Linked DNA regions of Homo sapiens. Changing the gene in region 1 together with any one later gene gives a genetic interaction. Each region holds a gene or a part of one and is shown on either strand. Other genes may lie near its edges.

The links. Genes that interact genetically often act in the same process or in processes that back each other up.
Region 2: of LEO1 (region 1) and NDUFA8, a change in one rescues a mutant of the other (synthetic rescue), as found in Homo sapiens cells (one study listed by BioGRID).
Region 3: of LEO1 (region 1) and MRPS5, a change in one rescues a mutant of the other (synthetic rescue), as found in Homo sapiens cells (one study listed by BioGRID).

Annotation. Positions count from the first base shown.
Region 1 is NC_000015.10:51,937,512-51,940,806, reverse strand, and holds the end of LEO1 (RNA polymerase-associated protein LEO1), read left to right. Parts: intron 1-2,521; coding exon of another isoform or gene 2,522-2,546; coding exon 2,547-2,651; 3' UTR 2,652-2,782; downstream 2,783-3,295. UniProt on the Homo sapiens protein: Component of the PAF1 complex (PAF1C) which has multiple functions during transcription by RNA polymerase II and is implicated in regulation of development and maintenance of embryonic stem cell pluripotency.
Region 2 is NC_000009.12:122,156,762-122,163,840, reverse strand, and holds the start of NDUFA8 (NADH dehydrogenase [ubiquinone] 1 alpha subcomplex subunit 8), read left to right. Parts: upstream 1-4,061; 5' UTR 4,062-4,163; coding exon 4,164-4,214; intron 4,215-7,079. Other genes in the region: MORN5 (MORN repeat-containing protein 5), read right to left, coding at 3,822-3,868. UniProt on the Homo sapiens protein: Accessory subunit of the mitochondrial membrane respiratory chain NADH dehydrogenase (Complex I), that is believed not to be involved in catalysis. Complex I functions in the transfer of electrons from NADH to the respiratory chain.
Region 3 is NC_000002.12:95,084,851-95,090,831, reverse strand, and holds the end of MRPS5 (small ribosomal subunit protein uS5m), read left to right. Parts: intron 1-309; coding exon 310-446; intron 447-3,250; coding exon 3,251-3,475; 3' UTR 3,476-5,463; downstream 5,464-5,981.

The sequences.
Region 1 (3,295 bases):
ATTTTATTAAAAATTTTTTTTTGTAGCAATTATAATTTTTTTTTTTGGTAAAGACAAAATGTCTTACCATGTTGCCCAGGTTGGTCTCACTCAAACTCCTGGCCTCAAGTGATCCTCCCACTTTGGCCTCCCAAAGCCCTGCGTTTACAGGTATGAGCCACTGCACCCATTCCCTTTGCTGTGTTTTTCTGTGCTTATGTGTAGCTGCCAGAGAAGTCAGTCCTTGGCAGGCCTTTTTTTTTTTTTGAGACGGAGTCTCGCTCTGTCGCCCAGGCTGGAGTGTGGTGGTGTGGTCTCAGCTCACTGCAACCTCCATCTCCCGGGTTTAAGCAATTCCCTTGCCTCAGCCTCCCAAGTAGCTGGGATTACAGGTGCCCGCCATCACGCCTGGCTAATTTTTTTGTAGTTTTAGTAGAGATGGGGTTTCACCATGTTGGCTGGGCTGGTCTTGAACTCCTGACCTCGTGATCTGCCCACCTCGGCCTCCCAAAGTGCTGGGATTACAGGCGTGAGCCACCACGCCCAACCTTTTTTTTTTTTTTTTTTTTTTTTGATACGGAGTCTCCCTCTGTCGCCCAGGCTGGAGAGCAGTGGTGTGATTTCTGCCCACTGCAACCTCCACCTCCTGGGTTCAAGTGATTCTCCTGCCTCAGCCTCCTGAGTAGCTGGGATTACAGGCATGCGCCACCACGCCTGGCTAATTTTTTGTATTTTTAGTAGAGACGGGGTTTCACTGTCTTGGTCAGGCTGGTTTCAAACTCCTGACCTCGTGATCTGCCCGCCTTGGCCTCCCAAAGTGCTGGGATTACAGGCGTGAGCCATCGCGCCCGGCCGGTCCTTGGCAGGCTTTCTAAAGCAGAATTTCACAGCTTCTTACTCCAGAGGATGGATTAGGACTGGTGCCAGTGAGACTTCTTTGGGAGAGCCCTGGCCATCTCCTGGCTGCTGCTGTCCAGGGGCCTTTAGGACAGGCTGTACCATCTTTTAGAATTACCATGCTAGTTCTTTTAGTGATTCAAATTTCATCTCATTAAAGGATTTTAGAGCTGAAAAGACAAACACACCAAGGCTCACTTTTGGAAGGTTACCAAAAAATAGTGATTGCATGTAAAACGTTTTAAGATTTTTCCTTTGGAAATTAAAAGACAAGTAGTGTGATTGAATGTGCTCTTTGCCTGTGGCGCTGGGAGTATTTGGGTTTGCTCTAGCCTGCAGAATAGAAAGGAGGGGCTCTTGTCCCTTCTTGGGGGCAGGGTCCATCTTTCAATATTGCTGTTTAGGTATTTCACTGCTGTCAGCTGGGAAGTAAATGGAGGAGGAGGACTTCTCTAAATACCTTACTGTGGATTCATAACTTCCCCCCTTTGAATTCTATGGCCTTTCAGGTCTGTGGGAATGTATTTGGGATAATAAGGCAGGAAACAAGTGTGAGATGCTATCTTGTCTGTCAGAGGGCCAGCCATGAGAACCATCAGAAAAAAGTGGGCATACCAGGTTGCATTCTCCATCTAGCAGCCTGTGGTCACAGCAGCAAGATGTCTGGCTTTCCCTAACTTCAACCTTCAAACCATTTGTTCATCCCATTTAATTTTTAATTTTTATTTATTTATTTATTTTTGAGACGGAGTCTTGCTTGCTCTGTTGCCCAGGCCGGAGTATAGTGGTGCGATCTCAGCTTACTGCAACCTTCGCCTCCTGGGTTCAAGTGATTCTCCTGCCTCAGTCTCTCGAGTAGCTGGGATTACAGGCGTGCGCCACCACACCTGGCTAATTTTTGTATTTTTAGTAGAGATGGAGTTTTGCCATGTTGGCCAGTCTGGTCTCAAACTCCTGACCTCAGGTGATCCACCCCCTTTGGCCTCCCAAAGTGCTGGGATTACAGGCATGAGCCATCATGCCCGGCCCATCCCATTTAGTGTCAGTTTGTTTTAATCAGTATTTGATATTTAGATACTGACATGTTCAAATTCTATCTATCTGTAAAAAATGTTTTTTAGGTAACTTCCTAAATTATTTGTTTCTGTTAGAACGTTTGTACAGAATGATTTTAAACAGAGGAAACTTGTTTATAGATGCCCTTTAATGTCATCAAATATTTTCTTAAAAACCTTTATGATGTTTTTAATGCATTGAAACAAATTGTTCCAAAAAAACCAAATCAACAGTCTTTAAAATACTGAATTTTAGATAATGAAAAGAAGTGAAATGCTGAGGAGGCAGAGAAAAAAAATTTGAGAAATTACCTGATCATGGTAAAAATATCCTGACAGGACCAGTGGTTAGACAGGCAGAACTTCCTCGGGAGAGCCCCGCCCCTTCTGTGGCAAATCCTGTCTCCAGTTTCCTGCACATCCTACTCTGTGTTCAAAGGTTTCCCTGTGAGAGATTAGTTCACAGTTGCTGACACCTCACAATCTCCCTCACAACCTGCAGGAACCGTTACTTTGAGTTGTCAGAGGGTCATTCAGCTCATAGCTACTTTTCATAAACCATCCTAAAAATGTTCTTTATTGACTTGTAGATTTGTAAAAATTGTATCTGTTTAGGAAGGTGAACCTTCCGGAAAGAGAAAAGCAGAAGATGATGATAAAGCAAATAAAAAGCATAAGAAGTATGTGATCAGCGATGAAGAGGAAGAAGATGATGATTGAAGTATGAAATATGAAAACATTTTATATATTTTATTGTACAGTTATAAATATGTAAACATGAGTTATTTTGATTGAAATGAATCGATTTGCTTTTGTGTAATTTTAATTGTAATAAAACAATTTAAAAGCAAGTCTCTATGTTTAAGAAATCTACTTTTCCGGCCAGGCGCGGTGGCTCATGCCTGTAATCCCAGCACTTCGGGAGGCCGAGGCAGGTGGATCACAAGGTCGTGGTGGCGGGTGCCTGTAGTCGCAGCTACTCGGGAGGCTGAGGCGGGGGAATTGGTTGAACCCAGGAGGCAGAGGTTGCAGTTAGCCGAGATCGCGCCACTGCACTCCAGCCTGGCGACAGAGCAAGACTCTGTCTCAAAAAAAAAAAAAAATCTACTTTTCCCAAAGCGAACTGATTTTGTTAATGCTTTAAACAAACAAAGTCTTAGGTCTCAGTGAATTCCTGCTGCTCTCTCAACCCCCTTCCTCTCATTCCCCACAAAGAAGCCTTCTGGGCCAGGCTGAGATTCTCTCACAATTCTGGAGACTTGGAGTCCAAAATCAAGGTGTGGGACGGCCATGCTGCCTCTGAAGATTCTTGACAGGGATCCTTCCTTGCCTCTCAGTTTCTGGTAGTTCCTGGTGATCTGTGG
Region 2 (7,079 bases), on another chromosome or scaffold:
GTCTCTACCACACATATGCATTATGAGGAGAGTTACAGAGATGAAATAAGTTTTATTTCCTGATGCTTGGCCCTACCAGGATCTATCAGTGGTTCCTCCACCACCAGAATTGTGCACGGTATTGAAATTTCTTTGCCAGAGCACAGACCGCCTGTCCAGCTTCCCTTTGCATAACTCCTCTGGGCACAACCCACTCTCCTGCCAAACTGAACTGCCAGCTCTACTCCATACGTGCCCTCTGGGCTATTGCTCATGCTGTTCCCTCTGCCTAAAAACTTCTAGAAAAAGAATTCTTCACCTTGCATCTCCAACCACCTAAATCCTACCCAACCTTCAAGGCCCATTTCAAATACTATCTCTTCCACGAAGCCTTTAAGGACGGCTCCGACTGTATGTGGCCTCTGAAGGGCCACAGCAGCAGGGCTCTATTGTAGGAAGCCTGTGGGCTTTACAGTCTGATCGACCTGGGTTTTAATACCTGCTCTGCCAAATGCTAACTGGGTGACTTTGGGCAGGTTTACTCCGAGCCTTACTTTTCCCATCTGTAAAATAGGATAATGATATCTATCTCAAAGAGTCCCTGTGAAGAGAAGATGCAGGCAAAGCCACCCAGAGCACAGTAGTTACTACATAAATGCTATGGGCGTCCCTTCCTCCCCTGTGTCTGTAGGTCTCTTCTGGCACTTACCTTGTGGTGCTTTGGAGTGGAGTTATCTAGAACTCAATTGTGCGACTACTCCAAAGAAACCATAATATTGAGGTCAGACAGATACTACATTAACCTTTTTTTTTTTAATATTCACACGTGGTACAGGGAAATCATGTCTCTTTTAAGGTTTTTTTTTTAAGTAGATACATTGAAGTGTAATTGACATACAATAGGCCACGTGTTTAAAGTGTACAATTTGACACGTTTTGACATCACCTGGGAAAACATCATCACAATCAAGACAAAATATCTACTCCCCACAAAAGTTTCTGCATGCCTTTCTGTAATACTTCCTCCTTGCCCCTGCCCACAATCCTCATCTCTAGGTGACTACTGATCTACTTTCTGTCACCATAGATTTGCATTTTCTAGAATTTTACATAAATGGAATCATACAGTATCTACTCTTTTTTTGTCTGGCTTCTTTCACTTAACATAATTTTTTGAGATTCATTCATGTTGTTCTGTGTACCAATAGTTCACTCCTTTTTATTGCTGAGTAGTATTCCAATGAATGGATATACCACAATTAGTTTCTTCATTCCCCTGTTGATGACATTTGGGTTTGTTTCTAGTTTTGGTTATTATAAATAAGGCTGCTATGAGTACTTGTATACATGTCTTTGTGTATATATACACTTTCATTTCTGGGGTAAATACCTATAAGTGGAATGGCTGTTTAACTTTTCAAGAAACTGCCAAACTTTTCCAAAGCAGTCGTACCATTTGATGTTCCTATCAGCCATGGAGAGTCTACATAAACTTTTTAAACCAAACGTTAAATATCAACTTCCTACTGTATAGAGAGGTTACTCTATTCATTTAAACTCCAAGAGGAAAATATCCCCTCCCTAAATTAAAAAAAATTGATTGAGTATCTACCATTTGTAAATAACATCCATATATGATCATTACATATTCCTTGGAACACTGCTGCTGAATGTGCATTGCTTTCCCATTTTACAGATGAGGAAACTGAGGTATGGATGGTTAATTAAGTGTACAACAAGCAAATGGCAGACTTGAGCCCAGACCTGTCTCATCCTCTCATTACATGCTGAAATTTGAGATGCCCCAAATAGAATTCTAGTTAACTGTTGTTAAAAATACAAAATCAGTACAGAACAACACATGTCCAACTTATGAAAAGAAGTATAACAAGTGAAAAACTGCTGACTTCTTGCTAGTTATGGGAAATTGGGAAGCCCTGTTCAGGTCTGGGAATCCCTATCGTGGTTACAGAGGTACCAGACAACCTCAAGCAAAGCCCAAATTCCTAGGGCCAAAGCATGGAAATGGCTGATTCAGCACACAAACCCAATGAAAATACACAGAAGGCCAAAGGCAAATGGTTGAAAGCCTTCCGTCTTTTACCTTGTCTGTGTGTTTCTCTCTCACCCATATACAGCCCATCGAAAATTAATGTAGTTTCTCAACTTTTTGTGCCTAAAATGCCCAATACCCCATCTCTATCTGCCAAAATTCTACCACCTTCACTGTAGCAGAGCCTTGTGAAAAGTAAGAATGTGGTTTGGACAGAGGATTGGGTTCAAATCCTGACTCTGTTACTTCCTAGCTGTGTATCCATAATGGTGGGCCAGTCATTTTGCTTCTCCTAACTTCTGTTCCTTTATTTGCAAGGTCAGCCTGAACTATCTCACTGAGTAGTGAGAGGGAGTACACACCAAGCACCTCTGCCACTTACCTGCTGAGTAGGATAAGTGTCTCAAGCCCTGTAAGGGTCACCTTTCTTACCTGGAAAGATAATAACATCTTCCTTGCAAAATTGATGTAATGATTAGAGAGATAGCATCCCATAGCATTCCTACCACCCTCTCTAGGAATCTATCTCCTATCCCTGTCCAGACCACAGATCCCTCTTTCCTATTAACTCAGAATGCCCTGGAATTCCACCAACTTGTGAATACAGAGCCCCAAGGTGGGAGTGCTTCACAGTCCCGACAACTAGCACTGGTTCAGCAAACCACTTCATATCGTCCAGCCTTGGTTTCCTCAGCTATAAAAACAGAGATTCCACTTTCTTCATCCAGGGTGGTTGGCAAAAAAGAGTGGCCACCTCTGTGTTTCCTCTGCTTCTCTCTACTACAGCTCTTACCACACTGAATCGCAGTTATCTGTTATGTCTACTTGTCGCATCATGTTTGAATGAACTTTCTGAAGACAGGGATTGTGCCCAGAGTCAATTACAGGGCCTGGTACTCGGTAGCCACTCAACATTGTTGAATTGCTGGGCACGGTGGCTCATGCAAGAGGATCACTTGAGCCCAGGAGTATGAGACCAGCTTGGACAACATAGCAAGATGCCGTCTCTACAAAAGGCGTTGAAAAATTTGCTGGGGGTAGTGGTGCACACCGGTAGTCTCAGCTACTTGGGAGGCTGAGGTGGGAAGATTGTTTGAGCCTAGGGGGTTGAGGCTGCAGTAAGCAGTGAACAGGCCACTGCACTCCAGCCAGGGCAACAGAGCGAGATCTTGTCTGAAAATAAAACAAAAACGAGAGAGAAAGAAAGAAAGAGAGGAAGGTAGGAAGGAAGGAAGGAAGGAAAAAAGGAAGGAAGGAAGGAAGGAAAAGAAAAGAAAAAAAAACTGTTGAATTGTTTTTTACTACTAGTCCACTACAGTGATTTGTGTATATAATCCTCTATAATAATCCCTAGATCGTGAACTCCTCCTGGAAGGAAGCGACCGTGTAGATTCAGATTAGCCAGTCTCTCTTCCCTAATCTTCGTGTTTGTTTTTATAGCATTTACCATTATCTGTAATTATTTTATCACTTATTTGTTTATTGGCAATACATCTCCAACTGGATTATAAACTCCATAAGAGCAAGGATCTTGACATTTTAAATATTCTTATTCCTATGTTTAAAACTGGCAGATAGCACACACACACAGTCAATGCACACACACATATAAGTATATATGGAATGAATGCATCTTAGCTTTGCTGCTTATTAGATATGGTCCTTGAAAAAATTACTCGGGCAAGTTTGTGAAAGTGCCTGGCACAAGGTGTTTCGCAGAAGCAAAAAGCCGTCTTTTTCCAGTCACAGCTATTCAAGGTATAGTAAGTGAATCAAATGAGCCCCTTACCTCCCATCTACATATTCCCCGATATATTTGCTCCCTGTGTACTCCATGGCGCCTGTTTTTAGCTTCCAGCTGTTAGGATCCGGAGTCTCAGTGGATACGGCATCACTATGACAACCTGGAGGGGTGGGCGGAGCCGAATCGAAGCCCCACCCCGCTGGAGGCTGAAAAGTTCTTGGTATTGCGCACGCTCCCTCGCTCGTGGTTGGGCAGGGCAATACGCCTGCGTGTTGCCGGATGCGCATGCGCAGGCGCCGTGTGGCACTCGGCGGTCGAAAGGGGAGTTCAAGGAGACGGGGGCGACGCGGCTGAGGGCTTCTCGTCGGGGTCGGGGCTGCAGCCGTCATGCCGGGGATAGTGGAGCTGCCCACTCTAGAGGAGCTGAAAGTAGATGAGGTGAGGCTATCCGGAGGACAGGCAAGGGAGACATGGGGCTGCGGCTTCTCGGGCCTGGGCCTAGCCCCCCTTGGGCTCCGCGGATCCTGGGACCCGGGCCCCCCTCCCCAGTCCTCCAACGCATATACAGGTCGACCCCCGGAGGTCCCCTCCGCAGCTTTGGGAGTCGCCTCCCCTCTCTACCCCACCCTGTCGCATCTTGCAGTGGCTCTAGAATCCTCCCCCTTTCGCCCTCCACAGCGACCTATTTCTCCTTCCGTGAATAATAGTGATACATTTTATTAAGCACCAACCAGTCATTTTACTTAGCTTATGTCGCTTAATCCTCAAACTTGCATGCGAGGTGAGTATACAACCCTAGGGGCTCACAGTCGAGGGAGACGGTCATCTACCTTAAAGTGGTATCACCGGTGCAGAGTGCATAGAGTGGGGTGACGAAGCCGCGGGAAAATGAGACAATATTGGAGCGTGCATCTACTCACAGCCTTGGGAAGGTGTTTGGTAACAGGACCCATTTAAAGCATTCGTTTATTCAAGAGATATCATTTCAGTAATTAACGTGTACACATAACGCTGGAAGAGATATACTTCGTGCTTTCATGGACTTTACAATCCAGTAGGGAGACAGACACATAAAGAGGCAGTCACAGTACAATGTAGTTAGTGCTGTGAGGAGTGAAGTAGAAACATACCCTACTAATTATAGCTAACATGATCAAGTCCTTTCTAGATACCAGGCAGGATGCTAATTACTTTCCATGCATTAATTCATTGAATCCTCCCAGCAACACTATAAGGTAGGATATATATATATATACACACACATACACATATATATACACACACACAATTGGTGTGTATATATATATACCATATATATATATACACAATTGGTGTATATATATATATGTATATACCATATATATATACACACACACAATTGGTCATATATATATATATACACACACACACACAATTGGTCGTAGCGTTATAAATAAGGAATTAGTCCCCGAGAGTAGAAATGATTTGCCCAAGGTCACGGAGCTCGTAAGTAATAGAGCTGGAAGTGAACCCAAGTCTGATTTTAAAACCAATGCTTTTCCACTATATTATGGGTGAAAACTCACAAGAATGAGACGGCCTAGCAGAACTTGTGTGTTTAGGGAGCCAAGTACAGTTTGATGTGACCCTAGTGGTGGTGGTGGGAAGCAGCAGGTGCTGAGCCTGGAGAGGCAACTTGGGCTGAGATAGGACTTGGAAGCAGCTTCTACAAGGCCAGACCAAACAGTTTGGACTTGATCCAGTAAGGGAGGTGGTGGGAAGAGTGGAAGGTTTTAAGGCAGAGGAGTGTCATGGCAGGGCTGGATAGTAGAACAGGCTATATTAAAGGAGAGGAAGGCCAAGACTAGAAATGATGTACCAGCAATGATATACCCGGCACTATGTTAAGTGTTTTGTTTGTTTGTTTTGTTGTTTTTGAGAGTCTCGCTCTGTTGCCCAGGCTGGAGTGCAGTGGCGCGATATTGGCCCACTGCAACCTCCGCCTCCCGGGTTCAAGCGATTCTGCTGCCTCAGCCTCCCGAGTAACTGCGACTACAGGCGCTCATCACCACACCCGGCTAATATTGTGTATTTTTAGTAGAGACGGGGTTTCACCGTGTTAGCCAGGATGGTTTCGATCTCCTGACCTCGTAATCTGCCTGCCTCGGCCTCCCAAAGTGCTGGGATTACAGGCGTGAGCCACCGCGCCTGGCCGTATGTTAAGTCTTCTACCTGCAATGCTTCATTTAATCTTAGATGCCTGTGAGAGTGGCAACTGTTATTTTCCTCAGAGGAAGAAATTATTAGCTATGTTCAGGGACTTTATTATATTAAAGTGACATTTACTCTGAGGTGGCAGAGGGGAGCTGCCATGTGGCCCCCACTCTTTTGTTCCCCCCGGCGAACCACCCCCCTGCCCCCACCCCATGTAGCTGGGTTAATCTTGAGTTGCTGTATTTCTTGTTGCAATTTTTATTAGGTTCAACAAACATCTGAAGTTCTACTTCATACAACTGATGTATCTGAAATACATTTGCCTTTAGTCTTCACACAATTGAATGAACATACGAATAATTACATAAATAACTAAAATACAAGACAAGGTGTGATTAAATACTATGAAAGGGGGAAGATGTGGTTTAGGAAAAGATTTGAAGTTGTATCTAAATTCTAGGCCTACCTGCCGGTCACCTTGATTACTTGATTTTAGCATTTGCAGACATGGTTATTTGTAAGATGAGGTGATCCCAGCTATAAAATTCTCTGAAACTATAAAGGGAATAGAGAAAGCACTTTTTGGACATAATGTAAGACATGACTAAATGGCATATGAAGAATGGCATTTATGGGCGGAGATGAAGAGAAGACCCCTCTAAGTGAGGGTAGGGTCTGAGCAAAAGTAAGGAGATGGGAAAATGCAGAGAGTCAAAAAGGAGTTCAGTGTTTTGAGAGAACAGTAAATAGTCAGTCCCTTTTTGAAATGTTGTGGTGAGAAGGGTGGAAAGATAGTTTGGGTCCAGAAGCCTTTCAGTACCCGTTAAGAAGTTTAGGCTTTATTCTGCTGTTAAGGCTGAATGAGAGTTTGGTTGCTAATATAATAGCAGAGTAAAATAAGAATTGTCATTTAGGGAGATCACGGTAGCAGCTGTGTGAAGAATGGATTGAAGAAAGAAAAAGAAAAGCAGGGAGACTAGTCTCAGTGGCTCTTAAAATTATTGAGAAAGATGTTAATGATCCCAGTGTAATTGGTGCTTACAGAGACTGTGCTTACAGAGAGCAAAGAACAAGTATATCTAGAATTGATCAGACTTAGCAATGGATTAG
Region 3 (5,981 bases), on another chromosome or scaffold:
TGAGTCTGGGGTGCCAAGAATTTTCATGCATGTTTATTAATCTCAATAACAATCCTGTTTTTTTGCCCTCAAAATGTGTTCAAGATATTTGTAGATGTCATCTTCTTAATCCTTGTAGTATCCTGTTTGAGTAAGTGTCATCTTGGAAGTTAAGTAAGTTGTCAAGGGTCAGCTCACTAGGAAGTGGTGATACCAGAATATGAACCAGTTTCCCGAAGCCCAGAGCCTGAAGCCATGCGAAAGCCAGCAGGGTGACTCCTCCGGCTGCAGGCGAGTGGGCTGTGTTTCACCCGGTTTCTCCTTTTCTAGGTTACGGCCTCCGCTGCCACAGGGCCATCATCACCATCTGCCGGCTCATTGGCATCAAAGACATGTATGCCAAGGTCTCTGGGTCCATTAATATGCTCAGCCTCACCCAGGGCCTCTTCCGTGGGCTCTCCAGACAGGTAATCCTTTCCCGGGGTCTGAAACAGAGGTTCTAGTTTGTATTTCAGTTGTGTGTGTTGGGGCTACGATGCCCTGGGGCCTCCTGGAGATGCTTTCCTGGGGCCACCTGAGGAGTTGGGCATTCTTTGTTGTCTGTGACTGCATCAGTTTAGTTAAATCCATTGACAAGTTCATGAAAATTACCTTTTTTTTTTTTTTTTTTTTTTTTGAGACGGAGTCTCGCTCTGTCACCCAGGCTGGAGTGCAGTGGCGGGATCCCGGCTCACTGCAAGCTCCGCCTCCCGGGTTCACGCCATTCTCCTGCCTCAGCCTCCCAAGTAGCTGGGACTACAGGCGCCCGCCACTACGCCCGGCTAATTTTTTGTATTTTTAGTAGAGACGGGGTTTCACCGTTTTAGCCGGGATGGTCTCGATCTCCTGACCTCGTGATCCGCCCGCCTCGGCCTCCCAAAGTGCTGGGATTACAGGTGTGAGCCACCGCGCCCGGCCTGAAAATTACCTTTTAAAAAGTACTTCATGGGTTTTTCTAAGCAGCATTTTTAAAGCCAATAATTACAATCTACATGTTATTATGAAAATAACACCTGCTTGTTCTAAAGCTCCAACAGTATAGAAAAGTAAAATCAAAAGAGAAAGTTCATTTCCTAATTTAGTCCTTTCAGTTGGGGCTAGGATGAAGCACCCAGGGCACCTCTGCACACAGGGCAGGCACAGTCAGTTCCCTGTTACCTGTGTAGGTGGTTCGGACTGATGCCTGGGTTGGTAGGGAACTATGAACATTAACATATCAGGTTACTTTTCCTCATAGGTGGGAGCCCTGGGCCCGGCTCCCAATCACCCACCATGGAGGGCAGGGCTGTGACTGCACCGGGCCCCCATTCTTGGGCAGCTCCCCTACCTGCCCAGGAGGGCTGGCCTGTCTCTTGAAAGGATGGGTAGACCTTAGCATAGGTGGATGAACAGAAAAGACAACCAGGTTCAATAGGCTCCATTTGCTGAACTCTGTTAGCTGAGGACTTTGGCAGGCTTCCTGACATTTCAGGAGTACAGTGGTGGGTTTTAGGTAAAGTGATCCATGGAGTAATTTTACATGTCTCTGTTTAAAGTAGGAAAATTAAAAGAAAAAGAAGGCTTTGGGTAAAAGCCTTCTGTTTTCTGAACAGCTTTTGTGTGTGTTACTGTCTAAAACACCCTTCAGAGCACTTGTAAATTGAAACATTAGAGGTTTAATTAAGATGTTGATTTTAGATAGGTTGTATTTATGATCCAGTAGACTTGTTCTGTTTTTGGTTTTTGGTTTGTTTGTTTTTGCTTTTTGAGACAGAGTCTTGCTCTGTCACCAAGGCTTGGAGTGCAGTGGCTCCATCTCAGCTCACTGCAACCTCCGCCTCACGGGTTCAAGCGATTCTCCTGCCTCAGCCTCCTGAGTAGCTGGGACTACAGGCACGTGCCACCATGCCCGGCTAATTTTTGTATTTTTAATAGAGATGGGGTTTCACCATGTTGGTCAGGCTGGTCTTGAACTCCTGACCTCGTGATCCACCCGCCTTGGCCTCCCAAAGTGCTGGGATTACAGGCGTGAGCCACCGCGCCCAGCCTAGACTTGTTCTTTTATGTGATATCTTTGTTTTCTTTTAGTCTTTTAAACCTTCTGATATAGTTACCATATGTCATCTCTCCTAAAATGCCATCAGCTATAAAAGGTTGCATTATTTAATATGTCACTCAAAAAGGAAAAGATGCCACCACTTTAGGTGATATGCCTTTGATTGAAAGATACACCAATATAAATTATTTTGTTTATGAAATGGCTCATCTGTTTTCTAATTTCACACATACTGCAGGGCATTAGATATATAATTAGAATAGTGCAAGGCAGCCATAAGGCCTGGGATCACGGGATTGACATAGCAGGTATGTCATTGTACCATGAATAACGTCTACTGAACTAATCTGCCTGCTTCCAGATCTCTGTGGCTTCCCTCTGCAGTGAATCCCCATGGCCCTGTTACCCAGCTCATGACCAGTCTTGCTTCTTAGTACACCCCCAGTTATTTTGAACCAAATCTCAGACATTTTATTTCAACCCTAAATATTTTAGTATGTATCTTCGAAAAGATGAGGATTTTAAAAAATACCCTGTAATACTATTATCATACCTAAAAAGTTAACAGTAACTTGTATCATCAAATATCCAATCAATGTTCATACAAATGAGCAAATTCCATTTGTTAGATTAAAAAAAATTTTTTTTTTTTTTACACAATGTGTTTGAATCAGGTTGCAGAACAGGTTAATGTATGTTTTTGCTATGCCTTTTAAATAGGTTCCCCTCCTCTTCCCCCACCCCCGCCCCGCTTATGATTTTTTGTTGAGGAAACCAGGTTGTTTGTTTTGTAGTGCTTCCTGGCCTGTTGCTGACTAAAATACCTGTAGGGTCCTTAGTGTCTTATCTCCCCTATATTTACTGTAAATTGGTAGTTAGATCTAGGGGGTTGGTGAGATTCAAGTTCAGTGTTTGGCACAGCATGGTGCATAATCAGGAGGGTTTAGAAGGCAAGAGACCAGAGGCCAAGGCCCTTCCTCTATCCAAGTTTGGGGTGGGCAGATGCAGCAGATGAGGCTGAAATGACTCCACCCATGACAGGTTATTAGAGTTTAGCCACAAAACACATTAACCCAAATCCACTGAAATGGCCTTTGAATACCCCCAGGCTGTACTGTTGTGGCCTGTGGAAGTTCCTGCTCTTTATGTTGCAAATGTACTTCAGACCTAACCTGTTCTGAATTTGGTCTTGCTTAGGAAACCCATCAACAGCTGGCTGATAAGAAGGGCCTCCATGTTGTGGAAATCCGGGAGGAATGTGGCCCTCTGCCCATTGTGGTTGCGTCCCCCCGGGGGCCCTTGAGGAAGGATCCAGAGCCAGAAGATGAGGTTCCAGACGTCAAACTGGACTGGGAAGATGTGAAGACTGCACAGGGAATGAAGCGCTCTGTGTGGTCTAATTTGAAGAGAGCCGCCACGTAACCTCTCTGGCCTTGTGCAGCCAGTTCCTGTGCTGCCCTGCACCTAGGAGAGACTCAGCCCCTCACAGCTTGGGATGTTACCTTGCCTTTTGTTTGTTTTGAGGGAAGTTTAATCTTTAAACTCTTTGGAAATAAATAATTATAGCTTTCATTTGTTGAGCACATGTTATATGCCAATGTGATAGAACCTTTACATACATATCTCAGTTCAAGACTACTTTAAATATTCATCCAAAGTAACAAAAGTAAATGAATTAGGGAGACGGGGTTAATAATTTGACCCAATCAGTAATAATGTACACAATGATAATTGCTGTAGTAATTATAGCTAATATATATGAACTCATTCATCCAAAGTGAATGTGATTAACTTCATTTTACAGAGCAGTTAAGTAACTTGACTACCGTGAGGAACTTCCAAACCGTTTTCCACAGTGGAAATGGAAGTTGTAGGCTACTATTGGGAATGTTAAATGGTATATTAATTGTATACCATTGCAATTTTGACTTGTATTTCCCTGATGGCTGATGATGTTGAACATCTTTTCATGTGCTGATTGGCCATTTGTATATGTTTTTTGGAGAAATGTCTATTCAGAGCCTTTGCCCATTTAAAAAGTTATTTTTTATTATTATTGAGTTCCTTATAGTTTCTAGATATAAGCCCCCCTATCATACATGCTTTACAGAAGTTTTTACCCATTCTGTGGAATATATATATTTTTATTTCTTTGCATACTCTTTCTGCCCCACCCACATCCTCTTTCTGGGACACTGATGACCAAAATGTTGAATCTTTTACTATTGTCCCGTGAGTCCCTGAGGCGCTGTTTATTTTTTTTCCAGTCTGTTTTCTCTGTGTTGCTCAGTTTAGGTAATTTCTATTGTTTTATCTTCAGAATAACTGGTTATTTACTCTTTCCTTTCCATTCTGCTCTTGAACCATCCATGCAGTACTTTAACTTTGACTGTCATTGTATATTTCAGTTAAAATTTCCATTTGGTTTATTTTTTATGTCTTCTCTTTATTTGCTGAGGCTATTTGCTGAGACTTTTTTTTTCTTTAAATGGCTTCAAGAGTGTTTATAATTGCTCACTGAAGCATTTTTATGGTGGCTGCTTTAAAATCTTTGTCATCAGGTAGGTGTGGTGGCTCACGCCTATAACCCCAGCACTTTGTGAAGGTGAGGCAGGAGGATTGCTTCAGCCCAGGAGTTTGAGATCAGCCTAGGCAACAAAGTGAGACCTCATCTCTACAAAAAGTAAAAGTAAATTTAAAAGTTAGACACACATGGTGGTGTATGCCTGTAGTCCCAGCTACATAGGAGGCTGAAGTGGGAGGATCATTTGATTGCAGGAGGTTGAGGCTGCAGTGAGCCTTGTTCATGCCACTCCAGCCTGGGTGGCAGAGTGAGACCTTGTCTCCAAAAAAAAAAAAAAAATTGTCATAAAGTTTCAACATCTGTGTCATCTTAGTGTTGACATCCCTTGAGGTTTTTTCTCATTCAAGTTTACAATGTCCTAGTTCTTGTTATGATGAGTGACTTTGGCTGTATCCTGGTCATCTTCACTGTTATGAAGCTCTGGGAGTTATTTAAATCTCTCAGCATGCTTCCTCTGACGGTGCTGGTATGGGATGGGGCACTGCCTCGTTACTGCCTGGTGAGGATGGAGATCCAGGTTTCCTCCTGTCGCTGTCCTCGGGACCTCTGCTGAGGCCTTTCTGCTGGAAGTAGGAGGAGCACCCTAATGGCACCGTGGGATAGGGAGCAGGCCATGTTAGGCTGGATGGTGAAAGTTTTCAGCCTGTGACGTTGTCTGGTGTGGGTGGGTCCCCTTTTTTTGTGTGTGGTATTTTGCTAGAGTAAGGTAGTTATTTCCTAAAACTTATCTGTCCTGTTAGTTTTCCTTCTTAAGTACCTAACAAATATAAAGACAATGAACTTTAAGCAATAAAAGACAATGATCCTTTGGAGAGGGGAAACAAAATTATCTGTACTTACTATCTGCGGAGAGTCCGTGGTTCTAGGAAGGGTTACCCCATCAGGACCTGGCGGTCTCCTGGAGTTGAGGTGCAGTTGGGCAGTCGAAATGACTAGAGTTCACAGGGGAGAATGCCTTGGAGGAGAGAGTTGCACAGCAGGAGAACTAAGATCTGCAGAGAGTTTCCATCAGATATTTAGTTACACACTAATAGTGCATGCCGGTGAGGAAACTCACCCAAAAGAATTAGAGGGAACAGTGTTTGGAGTGGAAAATAGTGCCTGTTATCAACAGTCACAGTGGAAAACCTTGTAATCTAGGTGGCATTGGAAGAGAACTAAGATGCCCTAGTAGTAGAAAAATTAACTCTACATAAAAACTACCCCTGGTCCCAACTCAGAAAGCTTAAAAACAAGACCAAACTGGAACACAACTGTTTCAAAGTAACTTAATTGTGTTCCAGAACAAAGCTCAAGAATATAGGAATACAAAAAATATACCCAATAAAGTAAAATATACAATAC